4 separate regions of the Homo sapiens genome follow, and regions 1, 2 and 3 are each linked to region 4. The links come from fine-mapping of genetic effects on gene expression. A gene starts in region 4. Each other region holds a variant in brackets. All regions are shown on one strand. Distances are between the middles of the regions.

Region 1 (5,142 bases), 44 kb after region 4:
GAAGGGGCCTGGGACAGCCATTCAGAAGCCTCAGCCCTCGCTCCATCCTTCAGCCCCGCAGGGACCACTGCAACCCCCAGGAGCATAGAGCGAGTCCTGCCAGGGCCTCCAGGGGTTCGGGGCTCACCTTTTCCACAAGCTCTTGATTTCTCCGGTACAGTGCCTGCTTCTCTTCAATCCACTTCATATCCTTGCAAATGGAATTGAAAGAAATAAAGACACTGAGGGAGGAACTCATAAACCAACGTTTAAATCGTGATGTGGCAGAACACCAAAGACCAGTCTGGCCAGCGTGGCAAAGCCCCGTCTCTACAAAAAATACAAAAATTAGCCGGGCGTGGTGGCACATGCCTGTGGTCCCAGCTACTCAGGAGGCTGAGGTGGGAGGATGGCTTGAGCCCAGGAGGTCAAGGCTGTAGAAAGTTATGATCGCACCACTGAAGCTTGTCTTTAGGTACAGCCAAATACCTCCCACCCACGTGTGCCCCCACGCCCGTGCAGATGGCTGCAGGCTCACCTGCCCCTGCTCCGCCAGGGCCTTCTCCAGGTCCTCTATCCGCGCCTGTGCCCTCTGCACTTCGGCTTGTAGCTGCTCACGGGTCTGTAGGACGGGAGGAAAGATACATCAAATTTTCTCTAAAAGCTGGGACAGACAGCACACACACTCGTGGGACGTCAGAAGGGTCTGTCTTTTGGTTCAGTTCATTGAGAAGTGACTGTTCGCCCTTCCTTTGGAAGAGATGCTTTCTAAGAGAGGGAGAACTGTTTTGTTTTTTTTTGAGACAGGGTTTGGCTCTGTCATCCAGACTGGAGCTCAGTGGCACAATCTTGGCTCACTGTAACCTCCGCCTCCCGAGCTCAAGTGATCCTCCCACCTCACCATCCTGAGTAACTGGGACCACAGGTATGCACCACCACACCCCACTAATTTTTGTATTTTTTGTAGAGACGGGGTTTCACCATGTTGCCCAGGCTGGTATCAAACTCCTGAGTTCGAGCAACCCACTTGCCTCAGCCTCCCAAAGTGCTGGGATTACAGGAGTGAGCCACTGCGCCCAGCCCTGGAGGGAGAACTTTAAGGCTTATTTGAAGCAAGAGATCTCACTTAGATTCTAAGGGGAAATCCTGCAGGTTGATTTTGAGAGCCTGTTAGGAGAAATCTTTGTTTACAGGATGACACAGCCAATGAGGATGACTGAGGCCTAGCGTGTGCTCAGCCCTGCCAGGTGCCGGCCAGAGGGCTTTGTTCGAGGGACTCTCCACATGGACCCGCTGGAAGCCCCGGGTGGTGCCGCTGCCTGTACTGGAGCTGCCCCTCTGGAAGCCCCGGGTGGTGTGGCTGCCTGTGCGGGAGCTGCCTCAGCCCAGGGCTCACTGCCTTCCTGAATTCTGTGTTCCTTAACTGACTCCCAGAGCCCGCCCCACATCTACAGGAAAAGCCCTGGCGCTTCCCCCGTCCGCATCCTGGTTTGTGAAGTCCCTCCCGAGTGCCACCGAGGCTTCTAGCCGAGGTCTGAGCCACCTCCCTTAATTCACTTTGCTGTGGTGGCTCCGAACCATGGGGCCACAGTGGCTCCTGCTCTCTCTGGGGATAGCTTCCAAGGGAGAGGTGCGTTTCGGGACAGGACGCAGGGTCAGAGGATCCATCAGCCGGGGTGGGGGGTGGGCGAAGGCGTGACCTGTGGTGCCCGCCCCCGAGTGCTTGGTCCCAGCTCCCTGCCCCCAGGCCGTCCTGGGCTCCTCCCATCACCCCAGCCTCTTCCCTCCCTTAAGGGGTCACAATCGTGGATGTGAGCCCTTGGGTTGGAGAATGCTTAGCAGAGAGGGAATTCCAGTTAGTCCTAACCCTGTTTCCGGACAGGGAAACGGAGCCCACAGAGGGCTGTGGGCCCCCTGCAGCCTCAGGACCGTGGCAGGGATGGGCCCACGTCCATGTCTTCAGACGCCTGTCCTCTCCTGCCCCCTTCCTTATCCTGAGGCTTCCTCGATTTCCACAGTGAGGAGTGACATTTCCAATTATAATACAGAATCAGACTGTGGGATGCCGGCTAGTCTATTTTCTTCATTAATCTTTTCTGTATCTTC[T/C]AGTTTTTAAAATAACCATGCAGCACTTCTCGGCATCAGATTTTCCTCTGATTCTAAATGACATTAAACTTTTTTTTACATGCAGTTTGGACATTTTTACTCTCTAAGCAAAGCTTCTGAGTTCTTTGCTTCCATGTGGCCCCCGAGCAAATGTTTCTCTGGCACCCGACAGGAAAAAGGGAAGACAGGATGCTTTCTCCAGCTCCTCCAGCTCCTGGCGAGCTTGGCCAGGAGGATGCGGCTGTTGCCCCGCCCCCGCTGTGAGGGAGAAAGGCTGGGCCCATGAGGCTCTGGGATGTCTCGGGGCTGCTGTGCTTTATGATGCTCTGAACCGAGGCCTTGACTTTTTCCTTTCTCCAAGGGTCATGCAAAAATTAAGTCAAAGTGAAAGAGGCGATATTTAAAGTCCCCAGTTACGGAGACAAATCTCTCCGAGCCTGAGGAGGGGACGCCCCCTCCAAGGCCAGCCCCCCCCACCCCGACTCAGGACAGGAGGAGGGCACAGAGGGGTGGAGCTCTCTCTTAGTTTTCACAACAGACGTCCCCAATGAGGTGCCAGGAAGGCAGGAGGGAAACCAGCCACGTCACCAGGGCGGTCTGGGTGGACAGAGGATGAGGCTGGCGGCTCCCTGGGGCACTAGCGTGGACCACGCTGGGGATGCTCTGTGGACACTCTCCCCTCGCCCCAAGAGGTCCGTCCCCCACCCAGCTCAGCCACCCTAAGTTGCAGAATTGCCAGACACTGGCATCTCTGGCCCTGCAGGGTGGTTTTGGGGTGGGGAGGCCAACGGGAACCCCACACCCCACAGCTGCCTGCTCTGGAGAACCCCTCAGCTCCCCCGGAAAGCAGCCCGTCTCGCTGTGAGGGGTACCAGGTGCAGGTCCTCCAGCGGCTTCCCCTCCGAGCCTCAGTAAGGGAGGGTGGGGCGGCAAGAGGACCCCCGACCCATGGCCCACGCTCTCCCCACGAGGCCTGGTGCCTGCACTGCCCTCCACGGCCCGCAGAGGGCACCCGCCAGCCACACTGAGGCCTTTCCTGGGGGACGACGCTAAGGTGAGCCAGGGAAGTGGGCGGAGGGACACGGCTGCTGGGGTGCTGCCCAGTGGGGAGGCCGGGGGAGAGGGGCCGGGGCCGGGGCCGGGGCAGGCACAGCCTGTGTGAGCTCAGCCTTTGAGGATGAATGACCTCCACAAGTTTCAACACCGAGCTCGATGCTGCCACGGGCCATCGCCATGCTGCCAAGAGTGGAAGAGGTGGTCTGGAAGGAGGCCCACCCTGGGCGCTGTGGGCCCCTGCCACCACTACCACCCCGCCTCCCCCAGGACCCTTACTCACACCTGTGCCTGGCACCGCTCTGGGCCAGTCCCTCCCACCTGGGCCAACTCCCAGCACCGGGATCCCCAATCCCTGGTTTTGATCGGCTTCCATGGGCACCACCAGGACTGCAGGCAAGGGCAGGAGAGGAGGGGCCCGGGCCCAGGAGGGCTAGTGAGGGGGGTGTCCCAGCCCAGGCCACGGGGTCAAGCGGGAAGGCACGAGGGGGGCCGGAACGCGCGGTGGAAGTCACGTAGACCTTAACTTCTCGCTCTGCGTCCAGCGTCCCTCCAACCTGCTCCTGCAACAAAGCGTAGGCACGCTGCAGGGCCTGGTACTCCATGGTCAGCTGCCGGAACCTCAGCTCCGTCTCCTCCTTGGCCATGCCCTGGAGAGACACGGATGCCACACACGCACAGAGACACAGTGTCAGTAGCCAGCACCTCCTCCGATGGCGGGGCCCCGGGGCTTCCCTTCTCCCCAGATATCAAATGGTGTATGGGGGGGTCTCTCTAGCAGCATGAGGGAGGGGACCTGCTCCAGTGTGCAGGGAGGGGCGGCTGCCTGGGGACTCAGTGCTGTTTGGAGAAAGGTTTCCCTGGGGAGGGGAGCACCGAGCCCTGGGGTGGGAGCTGAGTCGGCTGCACGGCTGAGGACAGGGTGAGCCTGCTGGGCTGGTGGCCATGGCCAGGGGCTCAGCTGGGGCTCCTGCTTGCTAGCCAGGCTGCCCTGACCCAGCAGACCCTCTGTTACCAACCAGGCCTGCACACGCTCTGCTCTGCTGAAACACGTCCTGGGAAGAAAGCTGGGCTTTGTGAAGGGGGTAAAGTACCCCAGGCAGCACGTCTCCTCCCAGGTGCACTCTTGCAGGCTCACCCTGCTAGCTGCAGTGCCCCCCGTCACCCCAGGGAGAAGACAGGTGAGCCTGCTGCTGCCTTCAAAGGGTCCCGGTGGACCCCCGGGGCTGGAAGGGTTGGCCACGTCTAGGAGTGACTGAGCCCAGAAGCCTTGGCCTGGCCCAGTTCCCCTGCCCAACCCTGCACCTGAGGCTGTGAGAGGATGTCTTAGATCCCTCAACAGGTCTATGGCCATTGGGCCACCCTCCAGGGTCTGCCACGGGAGGCCCAATCCTTGGCTGTGCCATTGACTGCAGACCCCACTCCTTGTCCCACAGCCACAGGGTCTGGGTCCCACAACACCAAGCCCCGACCTGGTGCTGAAATGGCTGCCTGCGCCTGAGGGTAGCCGTCCTTCTGGAAGAAGGGGCTGGTGGGCAGACACACCTGTGCTGTTATCAGAAAGAAAACTCCTGCTCAACACCCCTCACCCTAATGTGCTCTTGGCACTGAGACCAAACTCCCTGATGAGTGGTTCAGACCCTCCTGGGGAGGCCCCTTAGGAAGGGAGAGCTCACCGTACCCCTATGCAGAAGGGGCGTAGGCTCAGTGGCAGAAGGAGGCATGGTTTGGCCTTCATGGGAGCAAGAGCGGGCCTCAGCCCACACCCCAAGCCATGTCATGGGAGCTTCTCACCGTGCCCGAGTCAGCTATCAGCGGGTCAGTGCCAGTGAGGGCCGCGAAGGGCTTCCCCGTGAAAAGCCGGCAGCCCATGCCCAGCCAAGCCCAGGACCCGGCAGGAGACCCTCGTTACCTCCTCCAAGCCCAGGACCCGGCAGGAGACCCTCGTTACCTCCTCCAAGCCCAGGACCCGGCAGGAGACCCTCGTTACCTCCTCCAAGTCAT
Region 2 (5,142 bases), 38 kb after region 4:
TGGGGGCCAGCTGCACTCCTGACTCAGGCAAGAACCTCATCCTGCATGGCTGGGGCCAGGTGCCCTCATCTCTCCTGCCCTGCTCCCTTCTCCCATGGCAGGGCTGGGCAGGCCACAGACCTCTCCCAACACTTTAAGTTGGGGAGGCTGAGCAGGTGGCTTCAGGGTGACTGAGGGAATCTACCCAGATGTGATTAAACCACAAGTTGCATGTGAAGTCAACACTGATTGCACAGCCAGGCTTGAAGGGCCACTGTCAGCCCACTGTCAAGAGCTCCCCAGCATCTCCACAGGTCCCCTGAGCTTAAGCCTGGCCATGAGCCCTCCAGTATCCAACCTCCTCTGTCCCTGGGCTCTGTGACAATGGCCTCAGAGGCTGCATGATGACTGCAGGGCTGTCACACTCAGTGGCACTCTTGGTGGACAGCTATGGGGCTGGGCAGGAACCCTGAAATAGGCCTGGGTGGGGCTGGGTACCCCCAACTCTGCCACTACATCAGCTCTGTGACCCTGGGCAGTGCCTTTGGGGACTCAGCTTCTCCAACTGTGAATCAGAGTTGCCCAATACAGTTCCCAAGACCTCATGATGGGGCTGATACCCAGGACTGGACCCCAGAGATGTCAGGTCCACGGCCACCCTGCTGTGGCTCTTCGGCCACCTATGACCACAGTGGAGCCCCCAGCTCTGAGAGAAGCAGACCCACACCCAGAGCCTCCCTGCTGAAAGTACCCCTGCCCTGTGCCTCACTGCTCCCCAGGGGCTGGGCAGGCAAGGGGAGAAGGGAGTCCTCGGATGCAGAGCACTGGATGGAGGAAGTGGAAGGTCAATGAAGGTAGGATGAGGGATGGATAGATGGATGGATGGAGGGAGGGGATGTGGATAGGTGGAAGGATAAAGGATGAAGGATGGAAAGATGGATAAATAGCTTATGGAGGATGGATGAATGAATGAATGATGGAGGATGCATAGATAAATTATGGAGGGTGGATGGATTGATGGATTTTGGAGAATGGATGAATGAATGGAGGATGAAGGAAGGATGGATGGAGAATGAATAGATGGATTATGGAGGATGAATGGGAGATGGATGGATGGGTGAAAGGTTAATGGGTAGAGGATGGTAGATGGAGAAGGAATGGATGGAGGATGGTGGATAGAGGACAGATGGAGGATGGAGAATGAATGGATTAGGGATGATGGATGATAGATAGATGGAGGATGGATGGACAGATTGTGGATGATGGATAAATGGATGGATTAAGGATGATGGATGAAGGATAGATGAAGGATGAAGGATGGATAGATGGATTATGGAGGACGGATAAATGAATTGTGGAGGACAGATAGATGGATTATGGAGGATGGATAAATGAATTGTGGAGGACGGATACATGGATTATGGAGGACGGATACATGGATTATGGAGGACGGATAGATGGATTATGGAGGACGGATAGATGGATTATGGAGGACGGATAAATGAATTGTGGAGGATGGATACATGGATTATGGAGGATGGATGGATGGATTACACAGGATAGATAGATGGATGGATATAAGACAGAGCATGAATGAAGGGCTAGGTAGATGGTGCATTGATGGGGAATAAATGGATGGAGAGCAGAGGATTAGTAATGGGCGGATGAAAATTGGGATGAAGAGGTGCATTATTTTGCCCACTCAGTAATTAACATTCTTTCAAGGAGTTTGCTATAGAAATTGGAACTCTGCCCCAAATGAAATTTAGGAGTTATCTATAGAGTCTGCTTTTCCCCCAAGCCAAGGAAGTGGAACCCCTAAGGGTCTTGGTTTGTCTAAGAGCAACAGCCCCCTATCCTCATGGCAAGTATGGAAGGGCTGAGAGATCCCAGAAGCTGGGCAATGTGATGGGAAGTGCCATCAGCTGGAAGAACCAGGTGTGCACAGCAGAGGCCCCAGTGGGCCCTGGAGCAGTGTGAGGAAGGCTCCGATTCTGAGCAGGCTCTGGGCCTAGTGGAGGGTCTCAGGCAGGGTGGCCCATGGCAGGGCTGTGGGAGGCTGGCAGGGCCTCCTGGACCCCAGAGGGGCTGGGCTGGGGGTTGTGGGTGTAAGAGGCATGCACAAGCCAGGAGAGCGACATACACTTACGGCGTTATCGCCCAGGATGTCCAGCTTCTTCATCAGCTCC[G/A]CAACCACAATGTCCTAAGGCACAGAGGACAGGTAGGGGTGAGTGGCCACGGGGTGGGCAGAGGGGGTGGGGAAGGACAGGGCAGGGAAGGGCGGAGGGGAGGTGGTGGGGGTGGGGGAGGGGGAGGGGAGGGGCAGGGGTGAGGTAGGGCAGGGTGGGGGCAGGGGTGAGGTAGGGCGGGGTGGGGGCAGGGGTGAGGTAGGGTGGGGTGGGGGCAGGGGTGAGGTAGGGCGGGGTGGGGGCAGGGGTGAGGTGGGGCAGGGGTGAGGTGGGGGGGTAGGGGTAGGGTGGGGGCAGGGAGGGGGTGAGGTGGGGCAGGGAGGGGGTGGGGCGGGGGTGGAGAGGGTGGGGCGGGGGCGGAGGGGGTGGGGCGGGGGCGGAGGGGGGTGGGGCGGGGGCGGAGGGGGGTGGGGCGGGGGCGGAGAGGGGGTGGGGCGGGGGATGGGTGAGGTGGGGGCGGAGTGGGCAGGAGGGGCGGGACTCACCGTCACACCTTCGGCCTCGCAGTACACCTGGAGGGGGCTCTTCCCGTCCACGAAGGGCGTGTGGTGGAAGCTGATGGCGGGTGACTTCCTCTCCCTCTCCTAGGACAGAGGGACAGAAGGGTGAGCCGCTCCCCTCCCATCCCTTCCCTCTAAGAGGACTGTGCTGGGGCCTGAGGAACACGGGCCAAGACCATGGAACCAGGGATCAACACAGCATTTATGAAAACCAAACCGCAGCGGCAGCAGTGGTGGCAGAATCTGCACTGGACCTGGACCTGCCCACAAGGACTGCCCCTGTATATTCGCTGACCCCAGATGTGCCGGGCAGAGTTCATCACACTCTGGCCACGTGGCCTGGGCAGTCCCACCCTGAGCCCACGGGCACATCCCTCAGTGAATCCCAGGGGCTATGGGGAGGATCAGGGGAGGGGCTGCAGGTTGCATCCCCTTCAGGTCTGACCAGAGGAGCCTCTGGAGAACACAGGCTGGCAGTGCTGCCACTGTCCCCACAGGCAGGCCCACGTGGCCGAGGTCGTCCACACATGGAGTGACCACACAGCTGCCCTGTCCTCCGGCAGTGGACGGGCAGACTCTTAAGAGGCGGCTCCAGCTGGACTGTGAGGCTCCAGGTGCTGGCCTGAGACGGAGGCCTCGGGGCTGTGTGTGGTGCTCGGCAGGGGCGGCCCCTGTGTGGGCCACTTCCTCCCAGCCCCACAGGTGGACCACCCTTGCCGTGAAACAATCACAGCGACGTGGCTGCCCACACCCAGCCTGAGCTGCCCGTGGGATTCCCCTCCTCCCTCCTCCTGTGCAGGTCATGGCAGAGGACACAGGGCCAGGGATGGCAGGGCACAGGCAAAGGGCTCCCAGTCACCGCGTGGCCCCCACTGTCCTCACTCAGGGGCAAGAAACAAACGTCTGCCGACGGCGGAGGCCTGGACAGAGCCCCACACCAGCTGCAGCAGGGCCACGGGGGCGGATGGAGGACGGGCGGATGGAGGACGGACGTGCCGGCTCCTTGGGGGTGGATGGAGGACGGGCGGATGGAGGACGGGCAGATGGAGGACGGACGTGCCAGCTCCTCACCCCACAGGTCTGGAGCAGATGCTGCACTGTCACCCGTCGTGCTTTTGTTTTGTTTTCCCTGCATGACACTGAGCGCCACGGGCCATTTCCCCCATATTTACACGTGCTTTGGGCGGCTGGCCTCATCCTTCGTATGAAGAGGTGGTCCCTGCCTGACACTGAGCTCCATGGCCCATGTTCCCCATTGGATGTTTGGACGGCCGGTATGAAGAGGTGGCGGTTTACGGCCATTTGCCTCTTTCCTCCCTGACGCAGCCTTTTGGGTTCATGTTCATGTTCATGTTCATGTTCAGGGCTTTGTGTGGGTTAGGAAGGCTGAGGACTAGATCCCTGACACAGCCACAGGCCACAGTGCTGGCCATCCACTCAGCTACCTCAAGCTCCAGGATCCTGAACTCCAGCAGCTCGTTTTGGTCTCTGGCGTCCTGCACCTCGTGTCTGAGCCGAGCCTCTTCCGTCTCCATTTGTTTGATCTGCAACATAAAAGATGCATGAGGTGAGGGGTCTGGTTCTCTCTCACCAGAGGTCTTGGGAGGTCAACTCCAGGCTGACGGGACAGCTGCTGGCTGCCGGGGAGGCCGGCTGGCCTGGTACCCAGCCCTGGAAGCGCCTCACAGCCCTCGGTATGTTTGGGTTTGTCCTAGTGAGATAGCCTAGCCATCCGGTGGTGGGTGGGGCTGGGCAGGCAGCACCGCATACCACAAGCCAGGAGCCTGGCGATCATATCGGGGCCCTGAGCTTGGGTGGCCCCTGGACAGGGATGTGGAAGGGAGGCCGTCAAGGATAAACGTCTCCAGCAGGGGCTGTACATCACAAGCCAGGAGCACGGGGGCCTTAGCGGGGCTCTGAGCTAGGATGAGGAAGGGAGGCCGTGGAGGGTAAATGTCCCAGGTGGCTCCCGGGTGCCCCTTGGAGCCCAGGCTGTGCCCAATGGAAGGAGCGGGTACCACGGCTGCCTGGCCACCGGAATTCACTTGGCTAATTAAGGAGCTGTTTAAACGGAACCAGTTACGAGTAAACCGGATGCAGGAGTCCCCCACCCCTTCCAAAGGGTCAAGTGACACGGCCCACGGCATGTGTCCTCAGCAGCCTCATGAGGGCAGGGGCCACCAGGGGCAGACAGCTGTGTCCATCCCCTGAAGCTGAGCTCCAGGGACTGAGGGACCTGCTCTGATGCTCAGGGGACCAAGATAAACTCAGAAGCATTGCATCCTTGGAGTGAGCCGGCTCAGTGGGAGCTGGACCCCCTTGCAGGGCCAGCTGTGTACTGCTGCACAGTGGGCCTGCCGTGGAACACCTGCAGGGCCAGGAATGTGATCTGCACCCAGTGTAGCCAGAAAAAAGCATGGCTCCAAGTGTGCACATGCGCATGTGTGTACGTGCACAAGCATTTCCATGTGCGT
Region 3 (5,142 bases), 80 kb before region 4:
CAGGGGAGGGCTCAGGTCGTCAGGCGTGGAGGACAGGGGGCCTGGCTCAGGCATCCGGGGCCCACGTGGCTGGGAGGCCACCATTGGGTGGGTGTCAGCTATTATGGCCGTGGCAGGCTAGGGACTCTCACTGAACGCCTCCTCCCAACACCAACCTCTCAGGCTTGGGAGAACTGCCCCCACTGTGCCGCTGGAGTCAGCGCTCCCACAGGCATTCGGGGGAGGCCAGGGCTGAAGGGGACCCCAGGGCCCACCTCCACCTTTTGCAAGGCGAGGCAAGGGTCTGGAATGCTCCCAGGTGGATGTGGTTGGGCGACAGCCTGGGGTCTGTCTCATAAGCTCAGGTTTGGAAAATAAGACCATCCACTAGCTGTTAGCCCCGAGCAGCCTTCCTGCCCTTGGGGAAAATCAATCCATCAGCAGCCAGCCCAGAGGCGCTGGCTCTTAGCAGAGCAGTGATGGTGATAAATGGCTGTGAGGCTGCAGCTTGCTGCCACACACTTTCCCCAGGTCCTCCTGCAGCAGCCAGCAGGGCTGGGAGGCAGCCCTGAGCTCAGGGGAAGATCCGGTGCGGCCAGTGGAATCCAGGCTGCATCTCAGTCCTGCAGCTCAGCAGCAGATTTTCCAGGCTCCAGGCACCATGTGTCGGTCAGATGAGGCCAGGCACGTAATCAGCTCACTTGAAGAGACCCTGTGCAGCACCCTGTGCATACCACCGTGTGCACACACATGCACGGAGACACAGACACATGCACAGAGCTGCACCCACAGGCACATGCATGCACACACAGACACACACACGATGTGACACATGCACACACGATGCAACGTGAACCAACAGACACGTGCATGTACACACGCAGGCACACACACACACGATGTGACGCACGCAGGCACAGCTGCACCTGCATACACATGCATGCACACACCGACACACACACACGATGTGGGACATGCGTGCACACAGGCATAGAGCTGAACCTGCATACACAGGCATGCACACACACCGACACACACACACACACGATGTGAGACATGCATGCACACAGGCATAGAGCTGAACCTGCATGCACATGCATGCACACACACCGACACACATACACACGATGTGGGACATGCATGCACACAGGCATAGAGCTGCACCTGCATACACATGCATGCACACACACCGACACACACACACACGATGTGGGACATGGATGCACACAGACAGGCATAGAGCTGAACCTGCATACACAGGCATGCACACACACTGACACACACACACACGATGTGAGACATGCATGCGCACAGACAGGCATAGAGCTGAACCTGCATACACATGCATGCACACACACCGACACACACACACACAATGTGGGACATGCATGCACACAGGCATAGAGCTGAACCTGCATACACATGCATGTACACACGCAGGCACACACACACACACACACACAATGTGACGCATGCACACAGGCACAGCTGCACCTGCATACACAGGCATGCACACACACCGACACACACACACGATGTGGGACATGCATGCACACAGGCATAGAGCTGCACCTGCATACACATGCATGCACACACACTGACACACACACGATGTGGGACATGCATGCACACAGACAGGCATAGAGCTGAACCCGCATACACATGCATGCACACACACCGACACACATACACAATGTGAGAGACATGCATGCACACAGGCATAGAGCTGAACCTGCATACACATGCATGCACACACACCGACACACACACACACACACGATGTGGGACATGCATGCACACAGGCATAGAGCTGAACCTGCATACACATGCATGCACACACACCGACACACACACACACAATGTGACGCATGCACGCAGGCACAGCTGCACCTGCATACACAGGCATGCACACACACCGACACACACACACACGACGTGGGACATGTGGGCACACAGACAGGCATAGAGCCGAACATGCATACACATGCATGCACACACACCGACACACACACACACACACGATGTGGGACATGCATGCACACAGACAGGCATAGAGCTGAACCTGCATGCATATGCATGCACACGCACTGACACACACACACACGATGTGGGACATGCATGCACACAGACAGGCATAGAGCTGAACCTGCATACACATGCATGCACACGCACTGACACACACACACACGATGTGGGACATGCATGCACACAGGCATAGAGCTGAACCTGCATGCACATGCATGCACACGCACCGACACACACACACACGATGTGGGACATGCATGCACATAGACATAGAGCTGAACCTGCATGCACATGCATGCACACACACCGACACACACACACATGATGTGGGACATGCATGCACACAGACAGGCATAGAGCTGAACATGCATACACATGCATGCACATGCACTGACACACACACGATGTGGGACTTGCATGCACACAGGCATAGAGCTGAACATGCATGCACACACACTGACACACACACGATGTGGGACATGCATGCACACAGACAGGCATAGAGCTGAACCCACATACACATGCATGCACACGCACTGACACACATGCACAGAACTGTAGCCCCAGAAACATACATGCACATGCATACAGACACACATGCACATTCACATGTGCAGAGCTACACCCACAGGCACACGCACACATAGGTGTGATCTGAGGTGTATTCCAGGCCTCCAGAATACAAGTGAATGCTGGGCTGTGCAGACTTCTCGCATTTTGGCCAGGTTTCAAGGGACCCCAAAAGGAGACCTGCACCCCACACTGGGCTTGCTGCTTCTAAAGGGGCTGCTACTGCAGCTGGCTCACTGCCTGGACTGAGCCCAGGGCCCACGTGTCACAGGTCAGAGAAACCATGCGGGGAGCAGGGCCGGGGAAGCCTGAGGACAGGCTGGAAGGGGCTGCTCCGGCTTCTGACCCAGCTTTGGGTCTCCCCACTGCAGCGGGGTGGGCGGGGGCTGCCCGCTCAGTGACGGCCGAGCTCCCAACAC[T/A]CACGGTGGTTGTTGGGGTTGGAGCTGCAGTTCCTCTGCGGCCTCGTCCGCGCAGCCCTCCCCACCCCCAGTGTCCATTGTCACTCCATGCCTCAAGGCTGGCTGAGAAGTCCTGTTGTTCTGACCTCGAGCTGCCCCCAGGTCCTGCTTGTGTGATGCTCTCCTTGGAGTCCCCCCGCCCCACCGGTGGAGCCCCCTCCAGTGCCCTCCTCCCCGAGAGCATTTGTGATCCACTCCTTCCACCCCATGGAGCTAGCCTCCCTTGCCCAGCGCCTCCCCCACCCACGCCCGCGTTCCTTCCTCCCCTCCAGCCCTGGCTCGTTCCTCCCCCAGGGCTCGGGGTTGTCCTGGAGACAAATTGAGGGCTCCTTGGCGTGGGCAGGCCATGTAACCTCAGTGAGCCTCAGTTTCCTGCTGCCAAAGGTAAACACCCATTTCCTGAAATTCAGATAAGATGCCTAAAACGCTTCCACTACAGAATGTCCCTGATCTAGATGATCTATTTATTTGTATTGAGGTATAATTACAGTCAAGGGCACAGATGTGAGTATGCAGATTGATGTTTTGACAGATGGGCACACCTGTGTAACCAAGACCCCCCATGGAGACAGAGAACGTTGTCCTCCTTCTGGAAAGTTCTCTGGGCTCTTTTCCAAGCATCCCCTTCCTACCCCCAGAGACAAACCTGTGCTTCTCACTGTGGATCCGTCCAGCCTGTTCTTGAACTCACACAAACAGAATCGCACGACGCGCTCTTGTAAACCTGGCTTCTTTCCCTCAATGTAACACCTTTGAGATTCATCCACGTGGCTATGGATCGGGAGTTTGTTCCTTTAAAAGAAGTCCCCTAGTGGTATTCCATCGTATGGATATAACATAATTTCTTTATTCATTATCCTCTTGATGGACGTTTGGGTTATTTCCAGTATTTGACTGTTGTAAGGCAGCAAAGCACATTCTTGGGTAGACGTCTGTTTCATTCCTTTTGTGTAAATAGCTAGGAATGGAATTGCCGGGTGGCACAGCAAGTGTATGTTTAACTAAGATGCTGCCTGAGTTTCCCAAGCGGCCGTGCACGGCACCCCCTAACCCCTAGCATGTGGGTCAAGGTGCCCGGTGTCCTTGCCAGGCCTCGCTGCTGTCCCTCTCCCTGGCTGTCCGGGGGGATGGAGGGGGCCCGCGTTGGGTTTTCCTTGTGTTTCCGTGGCGACTAAGGACAGCCTCTCTCCTGTGCTCATTGGCCTTCGGGAGCTTCTCGTCTGTGAAGCATCTGCCTGGGCCTCTTGCCCATCTTTAATGTGCTGCTTGCCATTTATTACTGCCTTGTGTGTGCCCTGGCTGCCTGCGGCTGAATCCTGACCCAGAGCCTTCAGCAGGAAGGAAAGACATTGTCCCGAGCCATGAAAGCGAGAGGCCTCCCAGGGCTGTGCGGGGCTGATGGGCCTGCCCTCCGTCTCTCTGCACCGTGTCCTCTCCTCACACCCAGGCAGGGCCCCAGAGTGCAGTGAGGACCCCACAGGCTCCTCCAGGCTGTGTGTTGCCCTTGCAGCTCTGGTGGTCGCTTCTGCCCTAGTTCCAGAAGCCCAGGACTGGCTCTTCCTGGACACCCTCGCTGTGATGGGCCAGGCCTGGGCTGAGTGTGGCAGGGAGGAGCAGGGGCTGTCATCGAAGGAGAAGAGCCAGTGCCCAGCAGAGTGTCCCCCGGGTGGCTGCAGAGCCCACCTCGCCGCCCTTGCGGCACCCCCAGAGCCACCTCGCTGCCCTGGCAGCTCCCCCAGAGCCCACCTCACTGCCCTTGCGGCTCCCCCAGAGCCACCTCGCCGCCCTGGCAGCTCCCCCAGAGCCCACCTCACTGCCCTTGCGGCACCCCCAGAGCCCACCTCACCGCCCTTGAGGCACCCCCAGAGCCCACCTCACCGCCCTTGCGGCCATGTCTGCTGCTCGCACCTTCTACTGTTCTCATGTTGCAGCAGGTCAGGAAGATGTGTGGCTGTCCTGAATCCTCTGACATCAGGCGGAGTATAAATAAAATACGGGTATGATGGATGAGGCTTGAACTTTTGTGAATTTAACATAGTTTAACGTCTTTCCTAAAGTGAAAGTCAGAATGAAGCGCCCTATTTATTCACATGATTTTTTACGTCTTCCA
Region 4 (5,142 bases):
CCCTGACTGGGGGCCTTAAGCAGGTTTCAATCCTGGTTTGATGTTTTAAAGAGATCACCTTTGGCTGCTGTGTTAGAAAGTAGCTTGTGACAGGTAACAGTGGGAGCCGGATCATTGCTGGGGTGATTTCTGAGTGAGATGAGGGGCTCTGGGACAGGACTATGGGAAGGGACGGGAGGAGAGTGGATTCCAGAGAGGCTGGGAGTCAGGAGGGCAGGACTTGCTGACCAAGAGGCCATGGGGGTGATGGGGAAGAGATGGGGTGACCTCGGTTCCAGTGCAGCTCGGACGCACTCCCAGTGGGACACAGAGCGTCAGGCTGGTGAGGCCCGCTCTTTGTAGGTCAGCCCTGGCAGCACAGAGCTGTGGCGTTAGACAGGGATTGACTCCAGTGCTTGGCAGTCATAAATCCACTTCTAAGAATCCTACCAGATGGCCGGGAAGCAGAAGATTAGGCAGAAAGTAGGGTGTCACTGATGGGACTCTGCATGACCGTCAGAGGTGAAGATCTGACCTCATTGGAGAATGGGGGAGAGAAACACAAAAAAGGAGTGAAAGGAGGTGGAGAAGGACGCGCCCACGGGCTGGACTCGGCAACGCTTTTCCCTCCACCGTCTGGCGTGCGCCTCAGCACGCCCTGCAACTGACCCGGCAGGACTGACCGTCTGCATTTAACAGGGAGGTCCGGCCGCCTGCTCTGGGTTTCCAGGGCCCACCCATAGGTGGCCAGGGCCCTAGCCTGGGGCTAGAGCCTTCACGCACCGTCAGTCTGAAGCCAAGAGCATTAAACTGAAGTGCACAATTGGTAAAACTCTCAGAATGAGAAGGAGTTCATTATCTAGGAACTCCATTACAGGATTCACTGCTGACATCTAACTGTGGGGCTGTATTTTCAGGATCCCAGTGACTTGTCAACCTCTACCCCATAGTCTACAAACGGTTGGCAGACTATGCCACAGGCCAGACCCAACCCTCTACCTCTCTTCATACAGCCCTAGGCTAAGAATCGTTCTTGTATATTCACTGAAAACAATAACAAGAGTATGTCATGACTCAAAAATTCTATGAAGTTCACACTGCAGCATCCACAGATGAAGTTTTGTTGGAACACAGTGGTGCCCATCGACTTCCTAAATGTCCAGGACTGCTTTCCTGGCAGGGCCAAGCAGCTGAGACAGGAACAGCGTGGTCCGCAAAGCTGACAACATTTACTCTCGGGCTGGTTGTGGAAGAAGTTTTAGACCCTTGGTCTACAGAGCTGTCTGTTCCCAGCCGCTGCACCTCTCCTCCTCCTGCCCAGTCCCAGCTGAGCGCCAGGCTCAGCCCTGACCCGGCACCACCATGCATTTGCAGAGCCTCTGTGGCCGCATCAGGCCCTGGCTGCCTTCCCGGTGCTGTCCCTCTTCTTCACTTTCCACCCCTCCCAGGGGACCCACGCATTTTCAAGGAAGCCCTAGAAAACGCAACCGGGCAGAAGGAGGCTTGAGGAGACGTGTGGTCTGGGCTCTCTGCTCATAGGCGCCCAAGTGTTCAGGCACCCGCACTGAGACTGGGTTTGGAACCCAGAGGAGACGCAGCTGGGGTGTGGGGCTGTGCTCTTCTTACTGCACTCATCCGGATGGAGGTGAAAGTTCCCGGGAAGCAGCTGCCCCTCCGCACTGACATGGTTGCCTGACCTCCCCTGGGAAGGGGTCCTCCTGCCACCCCCAAACTCGACCCCCACATGCCAGCTGACTGGCAAGACCTCCTGCATCAAGACCAGACCCAGCCGGGCAGAACCCTCTGGAGGCAGCAGCCCCTCCCATCTGGAGAGGGGAGGGCTCCTTCCTCGCTCAGAGTCTGGGGGAGTGGAGCCCACAGCCCACGGCTCGAGCTAATGCCAGAGGTCAGACCCCACGGCCCTCCCGCCGAGGCCAAGTCCAGAGTCGGGTCTGGGACCCCATGGACTCCCCCGCCCAGGTCCTGCCGGGTCCCGAAGCCTCCTTCCTCCCACCCCCATCTCCCCCCGCCCGAGCGGGGAGGCTTTGTTTCTGGCAGAGCGGGACCTCCCGCGCCGGTGCGTGTGGGTGTTGGGGAGGGGTCTCTGCTCTCGAAGGTTCAGGGGCTGCCAGGGTTCCCGGCCAGTGGCCCTTGACCGCTCGCTTTCCTTGGAGTCGCTGAACCCAGGTTACTGGAAGGGTTCGGGGCCACCAGGGACTCCGGCCAGAGCGGCCGGGGCTAAATCGCTTTGTCTCGGACAAAGAGCTCCCGACGCAGCGCCAGTGCGTCCAAGGGGCGGGCGACCCACGGGCTGCGCCGGGAACGGCATCTCCCCGCGCCCCGGACCAGCCCGGGCCAACAAAGGGCCGCGTCCGCCCGCCTCGCCACCCGACCGCCGTGGGAGAAAGGAGCCGCTAGCGCTCCGAGGGACAGGCCGCCCGGCCCCGGGTTCTCCCCGGGCGCAGCCGAGGCTCCCGGAAGCCGGCAAGGCCGGGCAAGGCCGGGCAGGGCCCGGCAGGGCCCGGCAGGGCCGGGCAGGGCCGGGCCGGGCCGGGCCTGGGCGCCCCGCTCCTTAAGGGGGTCTGCGCGGCGCTAGCGGGGACTCTCGGACCCTGGGGCGCGAAGGAGCCGAGCAGGGAAGGGCGGGCGCCAGGACAGGGACCAGACGCAAAGGCAGGGACCCCCCACCCACGCACAAGACCAGGAGGGTCCGCCCGGCGTCCAGGCCCCACTCCGGGCGGCGGGCAGGGGGCGCCGGGCGAAGCGGGACCGGGCTCACCGTGATCCGGGGGATGCTTTTCTTGCCCTGGAAGGACATCCTGCTCCTGGGGGTCTCTGGTAGGGGCGGCACAAGCGGGGGCGGGCGGGCGGGCGGGCGGGCGGGGGGACGCGTGAGCCGGGACGCGTGCGTGGGGACGGCGGGAGACAGACTGCGAGCGCGCGGGGCCGCACGGCTCCGTTCCGGTCCCGCCCCCGCTGGGCCCCGCCCCCACCCCGGCTCCGCCCCCGGCAGGCCCCGCCCCCGATAGGGCCCGCCCCAGCCCGAGCCCCGCCTCACCCCGCCCATCAGCCCCGCCCCCGCCCTCAGCCACTCCTTCGCTTTAAAGCCCCCCCAGCGCTGGAACCGCTGCAGGGTCTGATCTCTGCACCCCGGGCCCCCGCGCAGACCCGCGGACGAGCGCTGGGTGGGGATTTCAACCTGCTCCAGCTGATGTGCGCGGGGTTTGCACCCCGGGGAGGCGAGGGAGAGAGTCCGGCCACGTCCTGCCAGGCCCCGCCCGCGCCCCCGCTGCCCTCCAGCGCGGAACCCAGGTCCCAGGAGACGCGAGGCGCCCAAGGCCCCGGGATTCCGAGCCAGTCAACCCCGGGCCGCGACGCTCTGGGAACCACACCCGTCCAGGAAGGCACCTTGGCCAAAGCCGGCTCCTTCGCAGATGACCCGGGCCAGGGTCCGAGCGCCAGGCTGTGACCCCGCGAGGCTGTTCCACGCTGGCCGCGAGAGACGGAGGGCAGGAGGGGCCCGAATAGGACAGAGAGAGAGAGAGAGAGAGACAGAAGGAGGCGCACGCGCTCCCCAGGGACCGGGACGCGGTGGTGGGCGGGACCTCGCGGGGGTGGGGGGTGGTCGCAGGACCCAGAAGGCTCAGGACCTTTACGGATAGGGAGGACCCCGCAGGGGGGAGCGGGGGAGCCCCACGCCCGGCGTCCTCCGGGTGCGAGGGTCTCGGGGAGTCCGAGCCCGGGCCCACGGCCTCTGTCCCGCGGCCACTACCTGCTGGGGGTCCCGGGCCTGGGCCACGCCGGGCTGCCCTCGGGGACTTGCTGCGGCCGTTGAGGGGTCTCCGCGCGCCGCGCAGACTCGCCTCCCAACCCGAGGGCCCGGGCGGCCGCCGCCCAGAGCGTCCAGCGGCAGCGTCTTGCTCTCGAAGGCGTCCTCCACGCAGCGGAACACGCAGCCAAGCTTGGGCCGGGCCAGAGGCCTCGCGGGCTCCTGAGGCTGCCGCGCGGTCACGGCAGGAGCGGGCGACAGAATCCGGTCTCGGAGCCTCCTGTAGCGAGGTCTGCGCGGCAGGTGCACTGGGCGGACCTGGAGGCCGCGCCCTCCCCCCCCGCCTCCTGCCGCCCGGCAGCGCTGCGCGGAGCTGGCTCTGTCCACGTAGCGGGTGCTGAACGCCCCATTCTGGCCCCTGGGTGCTCGCTTAGTCCCGGCCACGCGTGGCTGCTCGCCCTCGGGACACACTGGGCGCTGGGAAGGCCGGGCGGGGAGCGCGCACCGGAGAAACCGCTGTGGGAATCCCGGCCACATTTCCAGGCCCCTTGGGCCGTCCCACGCCAGACAAGAAAGCCCTGACTCCGAAACCCTGGGCGAGTGTGGAGGGCGCGCGGGGGTGGGGTGTACCCGCCCACGCAAACTGCTGCTGATCTCCCTTAAAGCCGAGTTAGAGGCTTGGGGCGAGACAGGAGTGACGGGCGATGCTGTCACTCCATCTGTCATTCTACCCAGCCTGCAGCAGCTGAATTCGAACCCAGAGACTTCAGGCCTTTGCGTTGTTACCGCAGTCCGCATTTCAAAGCCAGAGTTTGGCCACTGAGTCACCATGACCTCGAGTACTGGCGGGGCCCGAGCCAGCAGAGCTAGGTCCAGCAGCTTCCCACCCCTTCGTCCTCCTCTGGGCTCCCCCTCCCCTAAATGATTAATGCAATGTCTGTTACTCACCTGTGTGGGACCGTCCACGGCAAATATCACCAACTGTTCTTATGCACGTGCAGAAGTTCCGTCCCTTTCCTAACTGTCTGATCTCTTCCATGGTTCACATTTGACCAACAGCCACAGGAGGGAGCCTCCCAGGTGGTCGACCGGAGCCAGGTGCTGCCAGGCACCCGACTGCAGAGCTTGCCCTCCAGGTGATCTCGCAGGTGAGAACTGGGGCTTTCCTCCACAGTGGGCGGAAGGCGCGGACTCCGTTTCTGGTGTGCAGAGGCACTGTTCAGAGAATGAACTCAGAAGTGCAGAAATGGCTCATACGGCTTTCAGTTCAAACTTTAATACCTTTGAGGGGACTTTAATCGTCTAAGATTTAAAACATTTTTTATTAAAACTGTACAATAATTTACAAACGAGTAAAAAATTCTCTGGTATATATCATAGGAATCACAATACAA

What was found.
Region 1: its variant is fine-mapped to the expression of DPYSL4 in whole blood (INTERVAL, PIP above 0.99).
Region 2: its variant is fine-mapped to the expression of DPYSL4 in whole blood (TOPMed, PIP above 0.99).
Region 3: its variant is fine-mapped to the expression of DPYSL4 in esophagus mucosa (GTEx, PIP above 0.99).

Annotation. Positions count from the first base shown.
Region 1 is chr10:132,140,566-132,145,707 of GRCh38, reverse strand. It overlaps JAKMIP3 (Janus kinase and microtubule interacting protein 3), which reads right to left. Exons shown (of 24, transcript NM_001323087.2): 10 at 5,129-5,142; 11 at 3,660-3,788; 12 at 518-601; 13 at 128-190. Among named protein-coding and RNA genes, the nearest start is that of JAKMIP3-AS1, 44 kb to the left of the region's middle. RefSeq lists enhancers at 2,366-3,212, 3,213-4,060. The variant T/C (reference allele first, on the strand shown) is at 2,086.
Region 2 is chr10:132,147,022-132,152,163 of GRCh38, reverse strand. JAKMIP3 (Janus kinase and microtubule interacting protein 3) reads right to left here. Exons shown (of 24, transcript NM_001323087.2): 14 at 4,114-4,212; 15 at 2,654-2,752; 16 at 2,123-2,182. Among named protein-coding and RNA genes, the nearest start is that of JAKMIP3-AS1, 37 kb to the left of the region's middle. RefSeq lists an enhancer at 3,874-4,836. The variant G/A (reference allele first, on the strand shown) is at 2,169.
Region 3 is chr10:132,264,840-132,269,981 of GRCh38, reverse strand. The region is part of intron 1 of STK32C (serine/threonine kinase 32C); the gene reads left to right. Among named protein-coding and RNA genes, the nearest start is that of STK32C, 41 kb to the left of the region's middle. RefSeq lists an enhancer at 4,943-5,142. The variant T/A (reference allele first, on the strand shown) is at 2,994.
Region 4 is chr10:132,184,719-132,189,860 of GRCh38, reverse strand. DPYSL4 (dihydropyrimidinase like 4) reads right to left here and starts at 2,913. Exons shown (of 14, transcript NM_006426.3): 1 at 2,759-2,913. The coding sequence starts at 2,797. JAKMIP3 (Janus kinase and microtubule interacting protein 3) reads right to left here. Exons shown (of 24, transcript NM_001323087.2): 24 at 5,003-5,142. JAKMIP3-AS1 (JAKMIP3 antisense RNA 1) reads left to right here and starts at 3,109. Exons shown (of 4, transcript NR_184044.1): 1 at 3,109-4,896. RefSeq lists an enhancer at 1,693-2,194.